Linked DNA regions of Homo sapiens. The protein of the gene in region 3 purifies or fractionates together with the protein of the main gene of each other region. This does not show direct contact. Each region holds a gene or a part of one and is shown on either strand. Other genes may lie near its edges.

The links. Proteins that work in one complex are often made in the same cells at the same time.
Region 1: the proteins of ERLIN2 (region 3) and RNF185 purify together in Homo sapiens (affinity purification with mass spectrometry; 5 studies listed by BioGRID and IntAct, with this or other methods). This does not show direct contact.
Region 2: the proteins of ERLIN2 (region 3) and CANX purify together in Homo sapiens (affinity purification with mass spectrometry; 4 studies listed by BioGRID and IntAct, with this or other methods). This does not show direct contact.

Annotation. Positions count from the first base shown.
Region 1 is NC_000022.11:31,155,857-31,163,375, reverse strand, and holds the start of RNF185 (E3 ubiquitin-protein ligase RNF185), read right to left. Parts: upstream 3,195-7,519; 5' UTR 3,073-3,194; intron 1-3,072. UniProt on the Homo sapiens protein: E3 ubiquitin-protein ligase that regulates selective mitochondrial autophagy by mediating 'Lys-63'-linked polyubiquitination of BNIP1.
Region 2 is NC_000005.10:179,708,850-179,716,160, forward strand, and holds part of CANX (calnexin isoform d precursor), read left to right. Parts: intron 1-128; coding exon 129-210; intron 211-1,023; coding exon 1,024-1,216; intron 1,217-7,049; coding exon of another isoform or gene 7,050-7,151; intron 7,152-7,255; coding exon 7,256-7,311. UniProt on the Homo sapiens protein: Calcium-binding protein that interacts with newly synthesized monoglucosylated glycoproteins in the endoplasmic reticulum. It may act in assisting protein assembly and/or in the retention within the ER of unassembled protein subunits.
Region 3 is NC_000008.11:37,739,470-37,746,780, reverse strand, and holds part of ERLIN2 (erlin-2), read right to left. Parts: intron 6,417-7,311; coding exon 6,335-6,416; intron 5,010-6,334; coding exon 4,963-5,009; intron 2,427-4,962; coding exon 2,365-2,426; intron 2,211-2,364; coding exon 2,085-2,210; intron 1,213-2,084; coding exon of another isoform or gene 1,178-1,212; exon of another isoform or gene 231-1,177; intron 228-230; exon of another isoform or gene 1-227. UniProt on the Homo sapiens protein: Component of the ERLIN1/ERLIN2 complex which mediates the endoplasmic reticulum-associated degradation (ERAD) of inositol 1,4,5-trisphosphate receptors (IP3Rs) such as ITPR1.

The sequences.
Region 1 (7,519 bases), on a different chromosome or scaffold from region 3:
AGCCTGGGCAACAGAGCGAGTCACTGTCTCAAAAAAAAAAAATGTACACGATGCAGGTCAGGAATTGGCAATTTTTTTTCCATAAAGGGCCATAGAGTAAATACTTCAGACTCTGTGGACCATATGGTTTTTATGGGAAGTAATCAACTCCACTGAGTAGCATTAAAGCACCCAAAGACAATATGTAAATATATATGAATATAAATAAATGGGTGTGACTGAAATGAACACTGAAATTTTATCTTCCTGTAATTGTCACCTATGTAATATTATTCTTCTTTTATTTCCCATCATTTAAAAATGTAAAAAGCAGGCCAGACGTGGTGGCTCACGCCTGTAATCCCAGCACCTTGGGAGGCTGAGGCGGGCAGATCACGAGGTCAGGAGATCAAGACCATCCTGGCTAACACAGTGAAACCCTACCTCTACTAAAAATACAAAAAATTAGCCAGTCATCGGGGTGGGCGCCTGTAGTCCCAGCTATTCGGGAGGCTGAGGCAGGAGAATGGCATGAACCCAGGAGGCGGAGCTTGCAGTGAGCTGAGATGGAGCCACTGCATTCCAGCCTGGGCAACAGAGCGAGACTCCGTCTTAAAAAAAAAAAAAAAAGAAAGAAAAATGTAAAAAGCACCCTTAGCTCACAGACCATATAAACAAGCAGTAGGTCCAGGTTTGGTTCACAGCCTATATATAGTATGCAGATCCCCACTCTAGGTCAGAATTTGCTAACGTGTGCTTCAATTAAAAAAAAAAAAAAGATTTGACATCAAGTAGATTAAACAAATGGAACAAGTTATTATCTTGGCTTATAAGGCACATTTCCTTATTGCAGGACCTCTCAGTGGTTTTAATGTGGTATTACACATTGAGAAGCTCCAAGAAAGAATAATGGTATGTGGCTTTCTCAAACTTATTATTAGCATCAAATCCTTTTTTCAGAGCCACTTCTTCAGACCAGTGGCCTGAAGAACATACTTATGAGAATGTCAATTCAGACACTTCTTTAAAAGGAAACTTTTAGATCGAGAAGTTCTAAAAACTCCAACAAATTAAGATCATTTTACCCAGTACCTGGATAACATCTGAATAAGCATTTCACAACTTTTTTATTTTTTAATCTTGGGAAACACAAGTCGATAACTGGCAGGAAGTTTTGGCTCAACCCTAACTTTTGTGGCGGCGGGGGAGCAAGTCAGCAGAACTGGGTCATAATATGGAGCCTCTGCTCCCTAAGACAACATAAACATTCCTAAGCATTCTAGCAGGTGTTGAAAAAGTGATTTAGGCAGAGCTTTGTAATGCACAAAATAAGGACATAATAATGTTTGATTAGAAAACCAAAGGTATGCTAGAGGCCAGGCACAGTGGCTTACACCTGAAATCCCAGCACTTTGGGAGGCTGAGGCAGGCGGATCACTTGAGGTCAGGAGTTCGAGACCAGCCTGGCCAACATGGTGAAACCCCATCTCTACTAAATACTCAAAAAAAAAAAAAAAAAAGCTGGAACTTGTCATGTGTGTGAACTGGCAAGTCAAGTCTATAAGAGGACTGTTTTTATATGATGCATGGAAAGCTAGCCAACAGACTGCAAAAATTCTCTCACATCTATACACATATTGCTGAAGAGAGGATTCAAGCAGGGATTATGTTCCAGGGAAGAGAAGGCTGGTCTGAACAACCTCAAGGGGTGCTTTCAACTGAGAGTCCTCAATTTTGTGATTCAGAGTTCACTGGCTTCTCCTGGTCAAACATAAAATCTTCAGAGGCATTTCCAACTTGTTCTTAGAAAAAAGCTACTAACCCATGGGGTGGGACCCAGTTTACTTATTCATTCAATAAACATTTAAGGTGCCTCTATCAGATATTGGGTCATTCCAAAGTCCTTGAAAAGAAGGATGGTGCACAGGACAACCAGGAAGAGATTATGTAAGGTCAGATGCATTGGCCTTATTTACAGGAGATGTAGGCTAAAGTGATGGAAGTGTCAAAAGAGAAGAAAAAAGTCACATTTGCCTTGAGAGCAGAGTCAGCACCAGAAAGATGCAGAACAACTCCTTGGAATCACAGACTTTCAAGTTGGAAAGGACCTTCATCTAATACCTATATACCTCCCTCGAAAGGAGGCACGGAGGCAATCCATTCACTCCATCGGTGGTCACCTCTGACGATTCTTCCATTTAAGTTCTTCTATTAAGCAAAAATCTTGCCTTCCTGTAGAATTCACCTGTTAGTCCTAGTTCTGCCTCTTTTAGCCTAAAGATGAAGTGGAAGCCCTCTTTGCCGTAACAGTATTTTCAATTTTTAAAAAGTTAATTCCCTTCCAGTGCTCTCTTTACTGAGCTAACCATTCCAGTTCTTTCAAAGTTCCTGAACTGGCACCAGCTGCCTCAAAGCGAAGAATGGATATCTAGTGCTCACAGCAGGAAAGCACTTAAAATCAATGAGCTTCAAACATTAGTATATACAGGACCCCCCTACGCATAAGTTCAGATTCTAAACCAGAAGTCTGAATTGAGTCCCGCGCTGTAAAGCCGGCATCTCAGAGAATTACAAAGCAGATGGTGTAAGAACCATATTTTGAAAAACACTGCCCCGTTTTAGAGACGAGAAAACTGAGGCCCAGCACAGGGAAGAGATTTGGCCCAGAACGCACAATTGTCTGTCGGTGGCGAAGTCTCGAATCCAGGTCTCTTACTTTCAGCCCAACTCTGTTCACCGCGCTCCCCGGCCTCTGCTTCTCCACTCAGGGCAAACTCGTGAAATGCACTCCCAGATGATAGAGGCGGTCTCGCACGGGGGATAGAATGGGAATCAGTGCCCATGCCTCGAAAGGAGAGCTTGTGGGAGCCCTTCTCTTTCGCAAGGCCTCAGTTTCCCCAATCTGTATTCATGGGACGCAGAACCACAACGCCAGCTCGTCCTCTTTTCGGGGACAGACACGACCGGTCTTGCTGTCTCTGGGCCCCTGGGCTCAGATGTTCAAGCCCGTGTGTCCTGGGAAGGCGGACCCGGGTCTCCCGCCCCCGTCCCTAAACTTTGGCGCCCCCGCCCCAACCCCAGCCCCTCACATACCTGCCTCCGCACAGTTAACGCCAGCCCAGTCAATCAGTTTTTCGGGTACACGGCCAATACTAACGCCGCGTCAATCTGTTGGGTAAGACCTCCGACCCCTCCTACGCGGACTCCAGTCACATGACGCGGAGCCGCCCCTCTCGGAGGGACTTCCGGCCCCAACCGGAAGAGGTTAATTTCCATGGCTGAAGCTCTAAGGTTCCGCCTGCGGGCAGGAAGCGGAGGAACCTTGGAGCTTCGGCAGCTTTTCAAAGAGCTTTGGGTTCGGGGCTCCTAAAAGAAAAAAACTGATTCCGGCCGGGCGCGGTGGCTCCCACCTGTAATTCCAGCAGTTTGGGAGGCCGCGGCGGATGGATCACTTGAGGTCAGGAGTTCGAGACCAGCCTGGCCAAAATGGTGAAACCCCTCTGTACTCAAAATACAAAAAGTAGCCGGTCGTGGTGGCGCACACCTGTAATCCCAGCTACTCGGGAGGCTGAGGCAGGATAATCGCTTGAACCCGGGAGGCGGAGGTTGCAGTGAGCTGAGATCGCACCACTGCACTCTAGCCTGGGCGTCAGAGTGAGACTCCGTCAAAAAAAAAAAAAAAAAAGAGAGAGAGAAAGAACTAACTCATTCCGGAAAGTACCAGATAAACTTGGAACATCTTGTTACACCAGAATATAAGGATGATGGTAATAAGAATCATGGGAATGTGTCAAAGAACACAGGAGCTGTCTTTAAGGAGATCTTACTGGCCAAGTCAGGGCAATTTCAGAATCAAAATATGGAGTGATAGTAATAGAGTATAACTAATTGAATAAAATAGTAATCCATGAGTCTTTACAAACATAAAGAAGTGAGCATATTAATGGGTGAAGGGAAAGTCTTCCTTTTAGTAGAATGCTAGCTAATAAACATGGTGGAATTAGGAAATCAATAATGTGTGGTAAAACTAGAGAAACGGGATGTTTACAACAGCAAAAGTGTCTCCCATAAATTAGCTATTGATTACAAAGGGAAAATGGTGATGTTACAGAGGTTTAACCTAGCAGAACAAACAGATCAAAGTGATCAAAGTTAACACCACTAGTTAATGGGTCAGATCAAGGGCCTCCTAATAAAATGCACTGAGAACACATCTGTGGTATTTCTGTCAAAAGTGCACCGTACACATCTCATGAGGAAGTGCTAGAGAACCCCAAATGAAGGACACTGTCTACAAAATAACTCATTGTCATGAAAAACAGAGAAAAGCTGAGGAACTGTTCCAGTTTAAAGGAGACTAAAGAAGCATGACAACAAAATGTGGTGTGTGATTCTAAATAGGACCCTGGACTGGGGTAGTGGTGGTGGTGGAATAGTTGTAATGGACAATATTGGGACAAGTAATGAAATTTGAATATGGATTGTGGATTAGCTGTTAATACATATTGTATCAAATCACATACTGATAGGTGATGGAGCTTGTGATTTGCACTCAAGCAGTCATTGGAGTTCTTGACAGCCATCTTCATTCATTCAACAAGCATTTATTAAGTACCTACAGTTATCCCAGGAACGGTTAGGGATCGGACCTGAGTAGGAGGTGAACATAGTAGATAAAGGCCGGCGCGGTGGCTCACGCCTATAATACCAGCACTTTGGGAGGTCGAGGCAGGCAGATCACCTGAGGTTAGGAGTTCGAGACCAGCCTGGCCAACATGGTGAAACTCATCTCTACTAAAAATACAAAAATTAGCCAGGCGTGGTGGCGGGCACCTGTAATCCCGGCTACTTGGGAGGCTGAGGCTGGAGAATTGCCTGAACCCAGGAGACAGAGGTTATAGTGAGCCAAGATCGTGCCATTGCACTCCAGCCTGGGCGACAAGAGTGAAACTCCATCTCAGAAAAAAAAATAAAAAATAGTAGATGAAATAAGCTCATAGATGAAAGTCCTAGTCTGCCAGCCACCTTTGCAAGTTCCTGTGATCAAGAAGTAATACAAGGGATGTTTCCAGTCACACAAACCTGGATTTGAAACCAAGCGCTAAGAGAAAAACAGCCCCTGACATCCAGGAGATGGTCTGGCACTCACAAATAGACCTTGGTGTGTTCTCTTATTGAACATAAAAACTTCACAGAACATCAACATCAAACAAAGCCACTATGTGACCATGATGGATCAAGACAATAACAAAACCACTTGAATCATGTCTAAACCCAGACAAAACATGAGCATTGTTCGAACTACAAAAATGGCCAAACATTTCCCTATTCTGGCTTGTATAGAGATTATAGATTTAGCCTCGGTCTACTCTTCCCTCCTTCTAAATAATGTTTATCAAGGTACTCACTCATAGGCAGCATCCAATCCAGAAAACCCCATTTTCTTAAGCCCTCGTCCAAATCACCTAATGCAAGCCCAAATCCTATGTGTCCTTTGTAACACTTTGTTACTGAGATGCCCCTTTGTTTGTTTGTTTGTTTGTTTGTTTGTTTTTGAGACAGAGTATCACTCTATCACTCAGGCTGGAGTGCAGTGGTGTGATCTCGGCTCACTGCAGCCTCTGCCTCCTGGGTTCAAGTGATTCTTCTGCCTCAGCCTCCCAAGTAGCTGGGATTACAGGCGCCCACCATCACTCCCGGCTAATTTTTGTATTTTTAGTAGGGACAGGGTTTCACCATGTTGGCCAGGCTGGTCTCGAACTCCTGACCTAAGGTGTTCCTCCCACCTTGGGCTTCTACAGTGCTGGGATTACAGATGTGAACCACCAAGCCCAGCTGCCCTATTGTTTCTCATGATTCATGTCCTCTCACCCTTACCCCATAACAAGTGATAAACTCAACTTGTTTAACCACAGGTGTGTTCCAATTTCTTCCTTCCTCAAAAAGTTGTTATGAGGATACTCGGAACAGGTTCATCACAGAGTGAGCTTTCTCTATCAATCGATCCATTATCTATTTTTTATTTTTTTAAAAAAACATGGTCTCAGCCTGTGGTCCAGACTGGAGTGCAGTGGCACACCATCCTAACTCACTGCAGGCTTCAACTCCTGGGCTCAAGTGATCCTCCCACCTCAGTCTCCTGAATAACTGTGACTACAGGCACGCACCACACCCAGCTAATATTTTTTATTTTTCTGTAGAGACAGGGTCCTGCTGTTGCCCAAGCTGGTCTCAAACTCCTGGCCTCAAGGGATCCTCCCAGTTTGGTCTCCCAAAGTGTTGGGATTACAGGCATGAGCCACCTCACCCAATGCTTTCAATATACTTTTAAAAATTATACATATATTTTTGAGACAGCACCTCACTCTGTCACTCAGATTGGAGTACAGTGATGCCATCTTGACTCACCTCAACCTCCGCCTCCCTAGCTCAAGCGATTCTCCTGTCTCAGCCTCCTGAGTATCTGGGATTACAGGTGCATGCCACTACCACCCAGCTAATTTTTGTATTTTTAGTAGAGATGGGATTTCACCATGTTGGCCAGGCTGCTCTCGAACTCCTGACTTCAGGTGATTTGCCCTCCTCAGCCTCCCAAAGTGTTGGGATTACAGGCGTGAGCCACCACGTTTCCCCCTCAGCTTGCATTGTTTCTGGGAGAACCTGCACCATACCTTTATCTATAGCTTTCCCCCAGGTCTTAAGAAGCACGAAGTTTTAACTGTGGACACGGGATTTGGTGAAGCAGCAATCACGACTGTGGGCACGAGTAGCAAGGCTGCAGCAGCACATTGACTATAGAATGAAATGCATCCTACAGGAAGGCACAATCTTCTTTGGCATCTTTAAGGCGTTTGACAAGCATGTGAATTTGATCCTCTGCGATTGTGATGAGTTCAGAAAGATCAAGCCAAAGAACGTGAAGCAACCAGAGCTCGAAGAAAAGCACTTTTGGGGTCTGGTGTTGCTGCATGGGGAGAACTTGGTATCCATGACTGTGGAGGGGCTACCCCCAAAATATACTGGCATTGCTCGGGTACCACTTGCTGGAGCTGCAGGAGGCCCTGGAGTTGTTAGGGCAGCTGGTAGAGGAGTATCAGCTGGTGTACCAATTCCCCAGGCTCCTGGTGGATTAGCAGGCCCCGTCCCAGGAGTTGGGGGACCATCCCAGCAGGTAATGACTCCACAGAGAAGAGCATTACTGGAGCCCCAACACAGTACCCACCAGGACCGGGGGCTCCACCCCCACCTGTTGGCAGAGCAGCCCCACCTCTAGGCATTATGTTTCCTCCACCTGGTATGAAACCACCCATGGGCCCACCAATTGGGCTTCCCCTTGCTAGAGGGACGCCAGTAGGCATGCCCCCTCCAGGAATGAGACCCTTTCCACCAGGAATGCATCCACCAAGACCCTGGGATATTGCTGATCCATCTCAGTCACTTTTCCCCCTGCAATGCATCTTGTGAAATTGTATAGTGTTTGTGAGCTTTTTGTCCCTTCTTTCTGCGTTAATCATAGCTAATAATAAATGCCTAAAGCAAT
Region 2 (7,311 bases), on a different chromosome or scaffold from region 3:
TCCTTTGTAAGGGTAAACATTTGACCTATGATAAAACGTGACTAAGATGAGGGAGAGAGGAAATACATTAAGAGAGTTTCGATCTTTCAAAATGCCATACAGTTTTCTGCTTTTCTCTCTGATATTAGGTATGAGGTTAATTTCCAAAATGGAATAGAATGTGGTGGTGCCTATGTGAAACTGCTTTCTAAAACACCAGAACTCAACCTGGTATGTAATTCCCATTTCTGGAATGTGGCTGGACACCCACTATTACCTTGTAAGAATTTTGTAATTGGGCCGGGTGCAGTGGCTCACGCCTGTAATCCTAGCTCCCAGCACTTTGGGAAGCCAAGGCAGGCGGATCACGAGGTCAGGAGATTGAGACTATCTGGCTAACATGGTGAAACCCCATCTCTACTAAAAATACAAAAAATTAGCCAGGCGTGGTGGCAGGCGCCTGTAGTCCCAGCCACTTGGGAGGCTGAGGCAGGAGAATGGCATGAACCTGGGAGGCGGAACTTGCAGTGAGCCGAGATTGCGCCACTGCACTCCAGCCTGGGCGACAGAGCGAGACTCCATCTCAAAAAAAAAAAAAAGAGAATTTTGTAATAATTGTGAAAATAAAGGCTTCCTCCCCTGCTGTTTAACTCTTTTGATGAGTTGGGAAAATTGACTTTGACGCTAACGTGCTTTTTATTTGAAGTGTAAATTACAAAGTTGTTACCAACTGTTTTTATCTGAATTTCTGGTTTTGCTTCTGTGTAAGTTTTAGTTTTGGCAAGCTTATTTCTTTGTTTTATGAGGAAGCAATAACTGTCTAGATGTGTGCATTACTTTTTTTTAGACACTTAAACGTTATTTTAAATTTACTGATGATTGCTGGTTATTCCTTTTTACTAAACAAACTTGTAGTTAGCTTTTCCTTTAACTGTCACTAATATATTTGGAATTTTATAAGAGGAATTATCATACACTTTTGAAACGTTGCTTTTGAACACTTTGAGTACAGTGACTTCAAATAATCCTTTTTTGTTTTTGAAGGATCAGTTCCATGACAAGACCCCTTATACGATTATGTTTGGTCCAGATAAATGTGGAGAGGACTATAAACTGCACTTCATCTTCCGACACAAAAACCCCAAAACGGGTATCTATGAAGAAAAACATGCTAAGAGGCCAGATGCAGATCTGAAGACCTATTTTACTGATAAGAAAACACATCTTTACACACTAAGTAAGAAAAAGCATTAGTTTGGGGGCTTATGGTATTACATATATATCATCCATTTAATTTAAAGATTGTATATCTGGCCGGGCACTGTGGCTCACGCCTGTAATCCCAGCACTTTGGGAGGCCGAGATGGGCAGATCACCTGAGATCAGGAATTCGAGAACAGTCTGGCCAAAATGTTGAAACTTCACCTCTACTAAAAATACAAATATTAGCTAGGCATGGTGGTGCACGCCTGTAACCGAAGCTAGTTGGGAGGCTGAGGCAGGAGAATTGCTTGAACCTGGGAGGGAGCCAAGATCATTGTGCCACAGCATTCCAGCCTGGGCGAAAGTGAGACTCAATCTCAAAAAAAAAAAAAAAGGCTGGGCGCGGTGGCTCACACCTGTAATCCCAGCACTTTGGGAGGCCGAGGCGGGTGGATCACAAGGTCAGGAGATCGAGACCATCCTGGCTAACATGGTGAAACCCCGTCTCTACTAAAAATACAAAAATATTAGCCGGGCGTGGTGGTGGGCACCTGTAGTCGCAGCTACTTGGGAGGCTGAGGCAGGAGAATGGCACGAACCCGGGAGGCAGAGCTTGCAGTGAGCCGAGATCGCGCCACTGCACTCCAGCCTAGGAGACAGAGCAAGACTCCATCTCAAAAAAAAAAAAAAAAGATTGTATATCTGGAGAGTACCCCAGCCTCCAAACAAGAAGAATCTCAGCCTGGTATGGTTGCTCATGCGTGTAATCCCAGCACTTTGGGAGGCTGAGGCGGGCGGATCACTTGAGATCAGGCATTCGAGACTAGCATGGCCAACATGGTAAAACCCCGTCTCTACTAAAAATACAAAAATTAGCTGGGCGTGGTGTTGAGTAGCTGGTGTAATCCTAGCTACTCGGGAGGCTGAGGCAGCAGAATTACGTTAACCCAGGAGGCAGAGGTTGCAGTTGAGTCAAGATTGTATCACTGCACTCCAGCCTGGGTGGCAGAGGAAGATTCTGTACCCCCTCCACGAAAGAAAAGAATCTCTTCACTTTAGTATCTTAGTTGGGAAATGACCTTAATTTGTCAGCATTAAAAGAAGCTTCTTGGCCACGTATGGTGGCCCACACCTGTAATCCTAACACTTCGGGAGGCTGAATCGGATGGATTGCTTGAGTCCAGGAGTTCCAAACCAGCCTGACAACATAGTCAGACCCTGTCTCTACAAAATCTTAAGAATTAACTGAGTATAGTGGCATGTGCCTGTAGTTTCAGCTACTCAGGAGGCTGAGGTATGAGGATTGCTTGAGCCCAGGAAGTCGAGACTGTAGTGAGCCATGATCTTGCCACTGCACTGTAGCCTGGGTGACAAAGTGAGATGCTGTCTCAAAAAACAAAACAAAAAACCCAAAAAACTTCTTTTCCACAGGAACTGAGGTTCGAGATAATTTTAAGAATAGAATAGGTGTTTTTGGCCAGGCATGGTGGCTCGTGCCTATAATCCCAGCACTTTGGGTGGCCGAGGTGGGCGGATCACCTGAGGTCAGGAGTTTAAGACCAGCCTGGCCAACATGGTGAAGCCCCATCTCTACTAAAAATACAAAAATTAGCCGGGCATGGTGGAGGGTGCCTGTAATCCCAGCTACTCAGGAGGCTGAGGCAGGAGAATTGCTTGAACCCTGGAAGCGGAGGTTGCAGTGAGCCAGATTGTGACACTGCACTCCAGCCTGGGCGACAGGAAGACTCTGTCTCAAAAAAAAAAAAAAAAAAATTGGTATTTTTTGCTGGACATGGTGGCTCATGCCTGTAATCCCAGCACGATGGGAGGCTGAGGCGAGCAGATCACTTGAGGTCAGGTGTTCAAGACCAGCCTGGCCAACATGGTGAAACGTCATCTCTACTGAAAATACAAAAATTAGCCGGGTGGGGTGGTGGGCGCCTATAATCTCAGATACTCAGGAGGCTGAGGCAGGAGAATCACTTGAACCCGGGAGGCGGAGGTCACGGTGAGCCAAGGTCATGCCATTGCACTCCAGCCTGGGCAACACAGTGAGACTCCGTCCCCCACTCCAAAAAAAAAGGTGTTTTTTTTTTTTTTTTCTACAAAGAGCTTTGCTGATCTAATTTCTTCCTTTTTTTTGTTGTTGTTGTTGAGAAATGTTGAATAATAGAATAAGTTATATTTATAATTATACATAAATCCAATAAAAATAGTTTTTCAGAAGTATCTTGTAGTTGAACTTATTTGGATGCTCCAATACCTGGACAATTGACAATTGAGTTGAATCATTTTGATACAGGGTTTTTTTTGGTTTGTTTGTTTATTGAAGCTTTTCCTGCTAGTTTGAGATCATAAATAGGCATGCCTCTTTCTGAAGAATATAATAACCTTTTTTTTTTTTGAGATGGAGTTTCACTCTTGTTCCCCAGGCTGGAGTGCAATTGTGTGATCTTGGCTCACCACAACCTCTGCCTCTTGCATTCAAGCGATTCTCCTGCCTTGGCCTCCCAAGTAGCTGGGATTACAGGCATGTGCCACCACGCCTGGCTAATTTTTTTTTTTTTTTTTTTAGTAGAGATGGGTTTTCTCCATGTTGGTCAGGCTGGTCTCAAACTCCCGACGTCAGGTGATCTGCCCGCCTCAGCCTCCCAAACTGCTGGGTTATAGGCGTGAGCCACCGCGCCTGGACTACCTTTTTAATTTTTTTGAGGCGGAGTATTGCTCTGTCACCCAGGTGGGCGTGCAGTGGCGTGATCTTGGCCTACTGTGACGTCTGCCTCCCGGGTTCAAGCGATTCTCTTGCCACAGCCTCCTGAGTAGCTGGGATTACAGGCTTGTGCCACCATGCCCAGCTAATTTTTCTTTTTTTTATTATTATTATTTTTTTTTTTTTCCAGCTAATTTTTCTGTTTTTAGTAGAGACCGGGTTTCACCATGTTGGCCAGGCTGGTCTCGAACTCCTGACCTCAAGTGATCTGCCCGCCTCAGCTCCTGAAAGTGCTGGGATTACAGGTGTGAGTCACTGTACCCAGCCTAGAATATAACAACCTTTTTTTCTTTTTTTTGTGACGGAGTCTTGCTTTGTCATCCAGGCTGGAGTGCAGTGGCGCCATCTTGGCTCACTGCAGCCTCCGCTTCCCAGGTTCCAGTGATTCTCCCGTCTCAGCCTCCCCAGTAGCTGGGATTACAGGCACACACCACCATGTCCAACTAATTTTTGTATTTTTAGTAGAGCCTTGTTGGCCAGGCTGATCTCAAACTCTTGGCCATCTGTTGATCCGCCCACCTCGGCCTCCCAAAGTGCTAGGATTACAGGCGTGAGCCACTGAGCCCAGCTTAACCTTTTTTTGTTATTTCCAAAAGTAATACATATTTAAGGTATAGAAATTCAGAAGCCATAAGTAAGCAAAAAGAAAACACTTAAAGCGAGGGAGAGGGGTTGAAGACAAGTTGGTTAATTGGTACAGAAATAAGGTAGAAGGAATAAATTCTAATATTTGATAGTACAGTAGGGAAATTATAGTTAGAACAATTTATGGTGTATTTCAGAAGAGCTGGAAGAGAATTGTACTGTTCCCAATACAAAGAAAAAGTAAATGGAGCCAGGTGCAGTGGCTCAGGCCTATAATCCCTGCGCTTTTGGGAGGCTGAGGTGGGAGGATCACTTGAGGCCAGGAGTTCTAGACCAGCCCGGGCAGCATAGTGAGACCTTGTTCCTACAAAAAAATAATTATTCAGGCTTGGTAGCATGTACCTCTAGTCCCAGGTGCTCGGGAGGCTGTGGTATAAAAGGATCCCTTGAGTCCAGGATTCGAGATTGCAGTGAGCTATGATTGGGCCACTGCACTCCAGCGTGGGTCACAGAATGAGACTCTGTCTCTATAAAATAGAAAGAAAAGGTAAATGTTTAAGGTTACAGATATTTCAATTACTGTGATTTGTTTGTTTTGTTTTGTTTTGTTTTGTTCTTTTTGTTTTTTTGAGATGGGAGTCTCTCTCTGTTGCCCAGGCTGGAGTGCAGTGGCCTGATCTCAGCTCACTGCAACTTCTGCCTCCCGGGTTCAAGCGATTCTCCTGCCTCAGCCTCCTGAATAGTTGGGACTATAGGCATGCGCCACCATGCCCGGCCAATTTTTTTGTATGTTTAGTAGAGTTGGGGTTTCACCATGTTGGTCAGGCTGGTCTCGAACTCCCAACCTCAAATGATGGGCCTGCCTCAGCCTCCCAGAGTGCTGGGATTATAGGCATGAGCCACTGGGCCCGTCCAATGACTGTGATTTGGTCATTACACATTATATACATGTATCAAAATATCACACGTACCCCGAAAATATGTACAAGTACGATATGTCAATAAAAACATACACAAAGAAGTCACTTAAAATTATCTTAAACATCAGCATTGTGATATATATTTGTCAATATGTGTATATACACATATACAACTTTACATGCTATATCTAACTTTTTTATTTTTTTATTTATTTTTATTTTTTTTTTTGAGACGGAGTCTCGCTCTGTCTCCCAGACTGGAGTGCAGTGGTGCGATCTCCGCTCAGTGCAAACTCCGCCTCCCGGGTTCACGCCATTCTCCTGCCTCAGCCTCCCGAGTAGCTGGGACTACAGGTGCCCACCACCACGCTGGGCTAATTTTTTGTATTTTTGGTAGAGACGGGGTTTCACCGTGTTAGCCAGGATGGTCTCGATCTCCTGACCTCGTGATTCGCCCGTCTCGGCCTCCCAAAGTGCTGGGATTACAGGCGTGAGCCACTGCGCCCGGCCCTTTTTTATTTGAGACAGAAACACTGCAATCTCCACCTCCCAGGTTCAAGCGATTCTTGTGCCTTAGCCTCCCAAGTAGTTGGGTTTACAGGTGTGCACCAACATGCCCACCTAGTTTTTGTATTTTTAGTAGAGACAGGGTTTCACCATGTTGGCCAGGCTGGTCTCGAACTCCTGGCCTCAAGTGATCCACCTGCGTTAGCCTCCCAAAGTGCTGGGATTACAGGCATGAGCCACCACACCCGTTTCTTAACAACAAAAGAGTGTGAAGTTCTTCCTCACAGAAATATTCATTTTCATTATCACTGACACAGCAGCATAGGATTCCTTGTTTGGATGTGCTGTAACTCAGTCTCCTGTGTATTAGATATCTAGGTGTGGAATCTGGGCTTTAATATACATCACACTTAAGATGCTTTTATGGGGCCCATGTGGCTGGGCACGGTGGCTCACACCTGTAGTCTTAACACCTTGGGAGGCTGAGGTTGGGCAGATTGCCTGAGCTCAGGAGTTTGAGACCAGCCTGGGCAACATTGCAAAACCCCATCTCTACTTAAAATACAAAAAATTAGCTGGGCATGGTGGCACGGGGCCGTCTGTAGTTCCAGCTACTGCGGAGGCTGAGGCAGGAGAATCGCTTGAACCTGGGAGGCGGGCGTTGCAGTTAGCCGAGATCACACCACTGCACTCCAGCCTGGGAGACAAAGCGAGACTCTGTCTCAAAAAAATAAAATAAAATTTTAAAAAATGCTTTTATGGATTTAAAATTGTTTTTTCATTCTCCATGGGAGTTAAAAAGTAGAAAGTAGAATCATGAGTGGACATGCGTTTTAATAAATTGGAGGTTTGTGTAATTTCAGTAACGTAATAATACCAGCTCTATTAAAAATGAAGAAATGGACCTTTTGTACTGGGAAGTAGTTGTAAGTCCACGTATTTGTCTTCTCACTGGTGTATATGTGTAAGCCCAATAATTGTGTTAGTTTATGTAGTTTCTTGTTTTTTTTGTTTTTTTTTTTTAGTGTCTATAAGTCAAGTCTTTGGTGTTAAAGATTTTAACTATCATTTGCTGTAATTCTTAGAAAGCCGAGGGACTAATCATTTATGTTTCGTGCATAAGGAAATGGGCGTTAGCTTCCCCAAGACCCCAGGAGCCAGGCATTGTTCTTACCCCAAAGCCTCAGGTCAGACTTCTGCTGCTTCACGTTAGAAGTCATGATCTTTTGTATTATGGTAAAGGGAGCTTGGAAAATTAAGTACTTTTAATTCCATTTAATGTTTCTTTCAGTCTTGAATCCAGATAATAGTTTTGAAATACTGGTTGACCAATCTGTGGTGAATAGT
Region 3 (7,311 bases):
ACACACTGAAGCTATAGGTGAGCCATCCCATGTCAGACTTTATACTCAAAGAAGGAAAAGCCAAGTTGCAGTGAGCGGGTAAGACAGCTCAGATCCGAATGAAAATGGGGTCTGAATAAGTAACCCAAGGGAGCTGCCCTCTAGTCGGGCAGCTAGTATTGCTTCCTTGCATGGATACATAGGAGGGATACATTATAGATTAATAAATGATAGTGAGATAAACAAAATGATCTGTTGTGTATCTTTTACTTTACATTTGCTATTTACAGAGGAGTGTTGTATACATAGGTATTATTTTATGTCACACTGCTTCAGTGATAACTATATCCATGTGTTTGTATCCATGTTTTTATCCATTCAACTGTATTAAAAGGTGTTGGGACAGGAAAAAAAGTTGTATTACTAAGTACACACAAAGAGGTTCTTCAGGTAAACTTCAAAGTATTAGATAATACTTTAATAACATGGGCAAAGAGGATGCGGCAGAGTAAGAAGTGATGAAAATTATGCAGCTTCATGTTTAAAGTCTGGGCTATAAGAGTCCTGAGAGAAGGAAAGTATAGAAGAACCTTCTGAGTTGAAGGGCCAGGACTAGAGACATGAGCTCCTCCTTTATGGATATGACAGATTCTAAGCCAAGTAGTGCTTGCTAGCAAGACTGAGATGTAAAAATAAAAAAGTTTCAAAGCAAATATATTTCCCCAGCTCCTCCATACAAGCAGCTGTACTTCACTAAGCTACCAAGTTTAGCTGTAAGAAAGTAAGAAGTTTGCTAATGAAAAACAACTTTGTATTTTAATTTCCTCTTCAGGGACATTAGGGATCCTTTGTCTTTTTTCAGTGCTTTGAAATGTTCATGTAATGTCACAAGTCCTAAGACAATGGCTAGAGAAAATTAATATTTTATAAAATTCTATTAGTTTGAGGTTAAAAAGAAAAATCAACGGCAAATTTACCAACTTTTTCTTAAAAGCACAGTGAATCCAAAACAGATAAAAGACTACAAACCCTATAAAATGAATTTAGATTCATTTTCTACTGCAGAAACATTAAAAGTAATTTGGATGATTTCCTAAATCTTAAATGGTGCAAAAGGCGGTTTGCTTAATTATGATTGCTGGCGATGTGGATGAGTCCTCCTGTCTGCTATGAAAAATGTTCTTGCTCAGGGTCCCTTTTATGAAGATTCCTGGGAAAAATCATTTTCCAGTCCTAGTGTCAAGAACAGTTATACTATTGGTTAAAAATTCATTTACTTTTGGCATTGGCTATTAGAGAATTTCTGGCAGTGAGTTTAAACAGAATACTTGACTGCAAACAAGTTATAACAGTTACCCAACTGTGTCCTTCCTTTGCTGCTAAGTCAGGTTGCCTTTACTTTGAAAAAGGTAAAAAGGACAAAACATATCTACTTAGGCACGTGGAATCTTTTTGTTTAAAGTGTTTTTCTATTCGTTGCTACAGGTACAGAGTAAAAAAATAATAATCACAAAGGTTCTGAGAACTGGAAGGAGCTATGGTTCTCATCTCACTTCTAGAATTAACTATGAATCATGTCTTTTTCATCACCCATTCCTGGGGGCCCTCCATTCAGTGTTGCATGGTGAGAAGAATGCTGAAGAGCCAGGAGAGGAAGGCTCCTGTTTCAGCCCCACTACTAATTGGCATCTGGCTCTGTGACTTTCTTGCTTTGGGTCACAGTACCCTCAGCTTAAAATGAGGATGCTGGTCTGGACAATCTCTAAGGTTCTTCTAGAATGGACCTTGTCTTCATTATAGAATGATAGTTTAGGAACAGTGGGAACACATTTCCACTCCAGCCTCTGATTGAGGCCAGAAGTGAATACTCTACTCCACTATGGTCCCTGTGCCCAAAGCTCCAGCCCTCTAAGGATCTTGTTGCATAGCTATCAGCATTCTCCATGAACTCCTTTGTGACCAGCTCCTGAGCACAAGATTCTTTAACATTTCCTGTCCATAAGTGACCATCACACCCTGCAGGCAGCCAGGCTTTAGGCAGTGGAGAGACGCGGGGTTCCAGGAACCCTGCTTAAGCACGGCATGCTCAGGAGAGACTTTCTTACCAAACAGCTCAATGTAGACCTCTTGAAGCGTGTGCACACTGCAGAACTGGTTCAGTTCGTGGTGGATCTTGTTGAAGATGAGGGCCTTGTCATAGTCAGCAGTATAGTTCTTCACTATATCATACACTGAGAGGGAAGGAGAGGGCTTGGCATAAGAAAAGGCAAGACTCAAAATGCCCTCAGACACGGCAGCTCTCCTTTTCCAAGGTGCTACAACAGACACGGGAGTGGCATGCTGGGGAAAGTGAGCTGGTGGTGGGAATAAACTGTTAAGACGTACCTGCGTTCGGGACCAGGAAGTTCACCACTTCAATTCTGTCAAAGTAGATCATCACACCACCACTATTGGAGGGAGAATGGACAAGAAGTCACTGGGAAGCCTTAGAATATGGTGCAGTCCCCCAGGGTGATGGCGTAAGATGTGGGGCTTGGCAGAAAAGGAGTAGAAGAGTTCACGGGAAGTTGGAAGGCAGCTTGGATCTCCAAGTGGGAGGTTCTGCAGGGCTCATGGCAACAACATACTCTCCTGAGAAATCACACTGCCTAGGAACATCTCTACAAAGACATGAATGAGACTTTTGGGGACCAGTACGAAAGAGTAACTCATATCTTTGGAATCAGCAATGCCTTTTGATTAATCAGTTGCACGGAAAAGACTAAGGAGGGTCAAGGTGAAGTTTTCAGAACTTAGAAGGTTACTGTGGAATGTTATGATCAATGTTTCTTAAACTGTCTTCACTATTACTTTGGTGTCACACTCCCTTTGCCCTCAAATATTTATTATAAAAAGATTTCAAACATAGAGAAGCCGAAAGAGTAGTATAACTAACATCCATATCCAGATACCTGAATTCAACACTGATAACATTTTACCTTATTTATTGACCTTTTTTTTTTCTGAACATTTCAAAGTAAGCTGCAGTTAGGATACTTTACTCCTTTACTTTGGTGAGCACTGTCTTAAGAATAATCATTCTCCTACACACTCATGGTATCATTCCCAAGCCTAAGAAAATTAGCAATAATTCTGTAATATCACCTAATACCCAGTCCTTATTCAGATTTCCCCAACAGTTTGTGTTATGGACTGACCTGTGTATGCCTCGCCCCCAGATTCATATGTTGAAGCCCTAACCCCCAATGTGACTGTATTTGGAGATTAGACCTTTAAGAAGGTAATTAAGGTTAAACAGGTCATAAGGGTGGGCTGTAATCCAAAAGGTCTGGTATCCACCAAAGACCTTTTTCTCTCTTCTTGCACATACAGAGGAAAGGCCTTGTGAGGATGTGACAAAAAGGTGGTCACCTGCAAGCCAGAAAGAGAGGTCTCACCAAAACTACCCCTGCTGTTACCCGGATCTTGGACTTTGGGCCTTCAGAATGGTGAGAAAATATCTATTATTTTAGTCCCTTGGTGTGTAGTCCTCTGTCATGGCAGCCTGAGTGGACTCATATAGTTTCTGTCGTATCTGTTATAGCTGTTAATTTTGAACCAGGTTCTAATCAATGCTCACCCTTGCTTCTGTTTATGTTTCTTGTAAGTCTCTGTCCAATCCAGCATCCCTCTAAATACAACCACTTTGTGAAGAGATCAGGCCTGCGATCTTGTGGGATGTTCCAATTCCGGATTTGTCAGAGTGTTTCTTTGTGGTATTCTTTGTCACTCTATCCCAGTTTAAACTGTCTTTGCTTTCCAGTGGGACCGCTGTAGCAGTGTTCTCTTCGGATCTCTTTGCCCTGAAGGTCTCCCCTACCTTTATGACATTCTCTTTAGTTATGCAAGTTATCTTCTTGTATCAGGTCATTTATCTGCTAAAAACCTTTGTGCATCCTCACTTCTTTTTTTGTTTTTAACGTTAAAATTTTATTTTATTTTCCATTGTTTAAATTCAGAGGTACATGTGCAGGATGTGCAGGTTTGTTACATAGGTAAACGTGTGCCATGGTGGTTTGCTGCTCAGATCATCCCATCACCCAAGTATTAAGCTCAGCATCTATTAGCTATTCTTCCTGATGCTCTCCCTCTCCCCACCCCCTATCCACTGACAGGCCCCAGTGTGTGTTGTTCCCCTCCATGTGTCCATGTGTTCTCATCATTCAGTTCCCACTTATAAGTGAGAACATGTGGTGTTTGGTTTTCTGTTCCTGCATTAGTTTGCTGAGGATAATGGCTTCCAGCTCCATCCATGTCCCGTGCAAAGGACATGATCTTGTTCCTTTTTATGGCTGCATAGTATTCCATAGTATATATGTATCACATTTTCTTTATCCTGTCTATCGTTGATGGGCATTTGGGTTGATTCCATGTCTTTGTTATTGTGACTAGTGATCCTCACTTCTTTTTTTTTTTTTTTTTAAAGACGGAGTCTCACTCTGTCGCCAGGCTGGAGTGCAATTGTGTGATCTTGGCTCACTGCAATCTCTGCCTCCCAGGTTCAAGTCATTCCCCTGCCTCAGCCTCCCGAGTAGCTGGGACTACATGCATGCACCACCACACCCAGCTAATTTTTGTATTTTAGTAGAGACGGGGTTTCACCATGTTGGCCAGGATGGTCTCGATATCCTGACCTCATGATCCACCTGCCTCAGCCTCCCAAAGTGCTGGGATTACAGGTGTGAGCCACCGCGCCCGGCCGATCCTCACTTCTAATAGAGTAAGTGCAAACTCCTTATCACATACAGCATTCTAGCCCCTCCTGAACCTTCTATGATTTCCTCTACTGCACTCCATCACCTGGTCAAATCAATATAGGGAGCTACGAGACAGGGAATTAACCAAGAAAGGGTGCCTCCCTTTTCACTGTCTCTTCCTGCAACCAGCCAGACAGCCTTTTCTCTGACTTATTTGGGCTTAAAAGCTTTATTCTGGGTACCTTACCTAGTCCCACAAGGTACATTCTTCACCTCATCTGTCTGGAGTGTGGTCTGGAAACAGAGGAAACATAAAGTGCTAGAAGATGGGCAGTGACAAAGTAACTTACTTTTCAGAATCCTAAATGCCTTTGTCCTGGAATAACTGTTTGGGTTGAGCATGGCCTTCATTAAACATGATTACCCCACCTAATCCTCCTTCCTCACAGGGTTGCTAAGCCAAGTAAAGGCCCGTGCCCCAGCCTCACTATAAGTGAACCACCACATCAACAAGCTGAGTAATAATGGTTTAGTGAAGATGACACTGGATTGGGCATCTTAAGACTTGTGCTTGCTTCTACCTCTTCTATTTATGTTAGGCACCGCTTTATGTTCGAAGGCCCCCAGTGGATGCTTGAAACCGGGGAGAGTACCAAACCCTATAACACATACCTATGATAAAGTTTAATTTATAAATTAGGTACAGTAAGTGATCAACAATAATAAAATAGAACAATTATAACAATATACTGTCATAAAAGTTATTTGAAGGTGGTCTCTCTCTCTCTCTCTCAAAATATCTTATTGTACTGTAGTCACCTGTTTTCAGACCATGGTTTATTGTGGGTAACTGAGCCTGTGGAAAGTGAAATAGTGGATAAGGGGGAGGGCTGTTGTACTAGTTTTGAAACAGCAGATTACCTATTTAACCTGTCTCAGACCCTAGCACATGCTCAGCCCATTCTCAGGATTACTACAAGACTCAAATGAGACAATGTACCTGAATGCAGTTTGAAAGCCACAAAGCCTGGTAAACAGCACATGAAACTTACAGGGAAAATGCCTAGCAGGTATCCCAAGACATTCTCCTGGGTCAGTGTAAAGTGTAAAATCTTGTTATTCTTCTTAGCTGGACATACTTCAGAGATGGCAAGTCCAACTTAGCCAGGCTTTAGATCTGCCACAACTAACCTCACTCCTATTTTAGATGTCACCTCCCCTCACTTAGTTTAACTCCTCCCCACTCACTGCAAAAATTATGTTCGTATTTCTGAATTCAAATAAGAATCAGCAAAATTACTATGTTTTCTTTCCATTTAACATGGTAGCCTGTGATTTAAAACATACACACATAAACCCTGACTTTTCTTTCCATATACTCAGAACAGGTTCTTCTCTGGCTTTATCTTGAAGGAATAATCCCCAGCCTCATTTTATATATATATAGTGTATGTGTGTATATATATATATATTATATATATATAATATGTATATATTATCCTTATATCATTCTCTAGAATGGCATTTTACTCATCCAATGGCTAAATAATTTCAAATCATGCACTAGTTAACAGCCCAAGTTTGCAGTCGTCCAGCCATACCACAGAGGCCAAGCATACCTGCACAGACTTATATGATGTGATGAAAGGGAGCATGAGATGGAAACCAGGGCCGCTGGTCGAAGTCAGCAGGGCACCGCCTCTGCAGAGGAGGGGGAAGAGAGAGGCAGCTTCAGTTTGGCAAGAAGGCTCTGTTAGATCAATATCATGAGGGTCAACTTTCCCTTCAGCCCTATAAACATATAATAGAGAGTGACATGTGCTGCAGCCATGGCTACAGATCCCTTTCTTCCTCTCAGCTAGATCCTAATATTCTAGGAAGCCTGATGGTAAAACATAAAACTATTGTTCATGCTTTTGCAAGGAGAAAAATAGGCACATAGGCTAAATGGAATAAAGACAGCAGAACCCACTAGTGCAGTCCCAGCGCTTTGCGGGGCTGAGGTGAGAGGATTGCATGAACTCAGGAGTTTGAGACCAACCTGTCTCAAATAGTGAGACCCTGTCTCTACAAAAAAAGAAAAGGAAAAAAATTAGCTGAGTGTGGTGGTTGTATGCCTATAGTCCCAGCTACTTGGGAGGCTGAGATGTAAGAATTGCTTGAGCCTGGGAGGTTGAGGATGTAGTGAGACATAATTGTGCCACTGCACTCCAGCTTGGGCAACAAAGTGAGACTCTGTCTAAAAAAAAAAAAGAAAAAGACAGCAGAATCCATGGGTATACTTAGATAAGAGAAAGTCTGGCCAGGCGCGGTGGCTCACGCCTGTGATCTTTGGGAGGCTGAGGTGAGTGGATTATTAGGTCAGGAGTTCAAGACCAGCCTGGCCAACATGGTGAAACCTCGTCTCTACTAAAAATACAAAAATTAGCCAGGCGTGGTGGCAGGCACCTGTAATCCCAGCTACTTAGGAGGCTGAGGCAGAGAATTGCTTGAACCTGGGAGGCGGAGGTTGCAGTGAACCAAGATCTCACCACTGCACTCCAGCCTGGGCAACACAGCGAGACTGTCTCAAAAAAAAAAAAGATAAGAAGTCTGT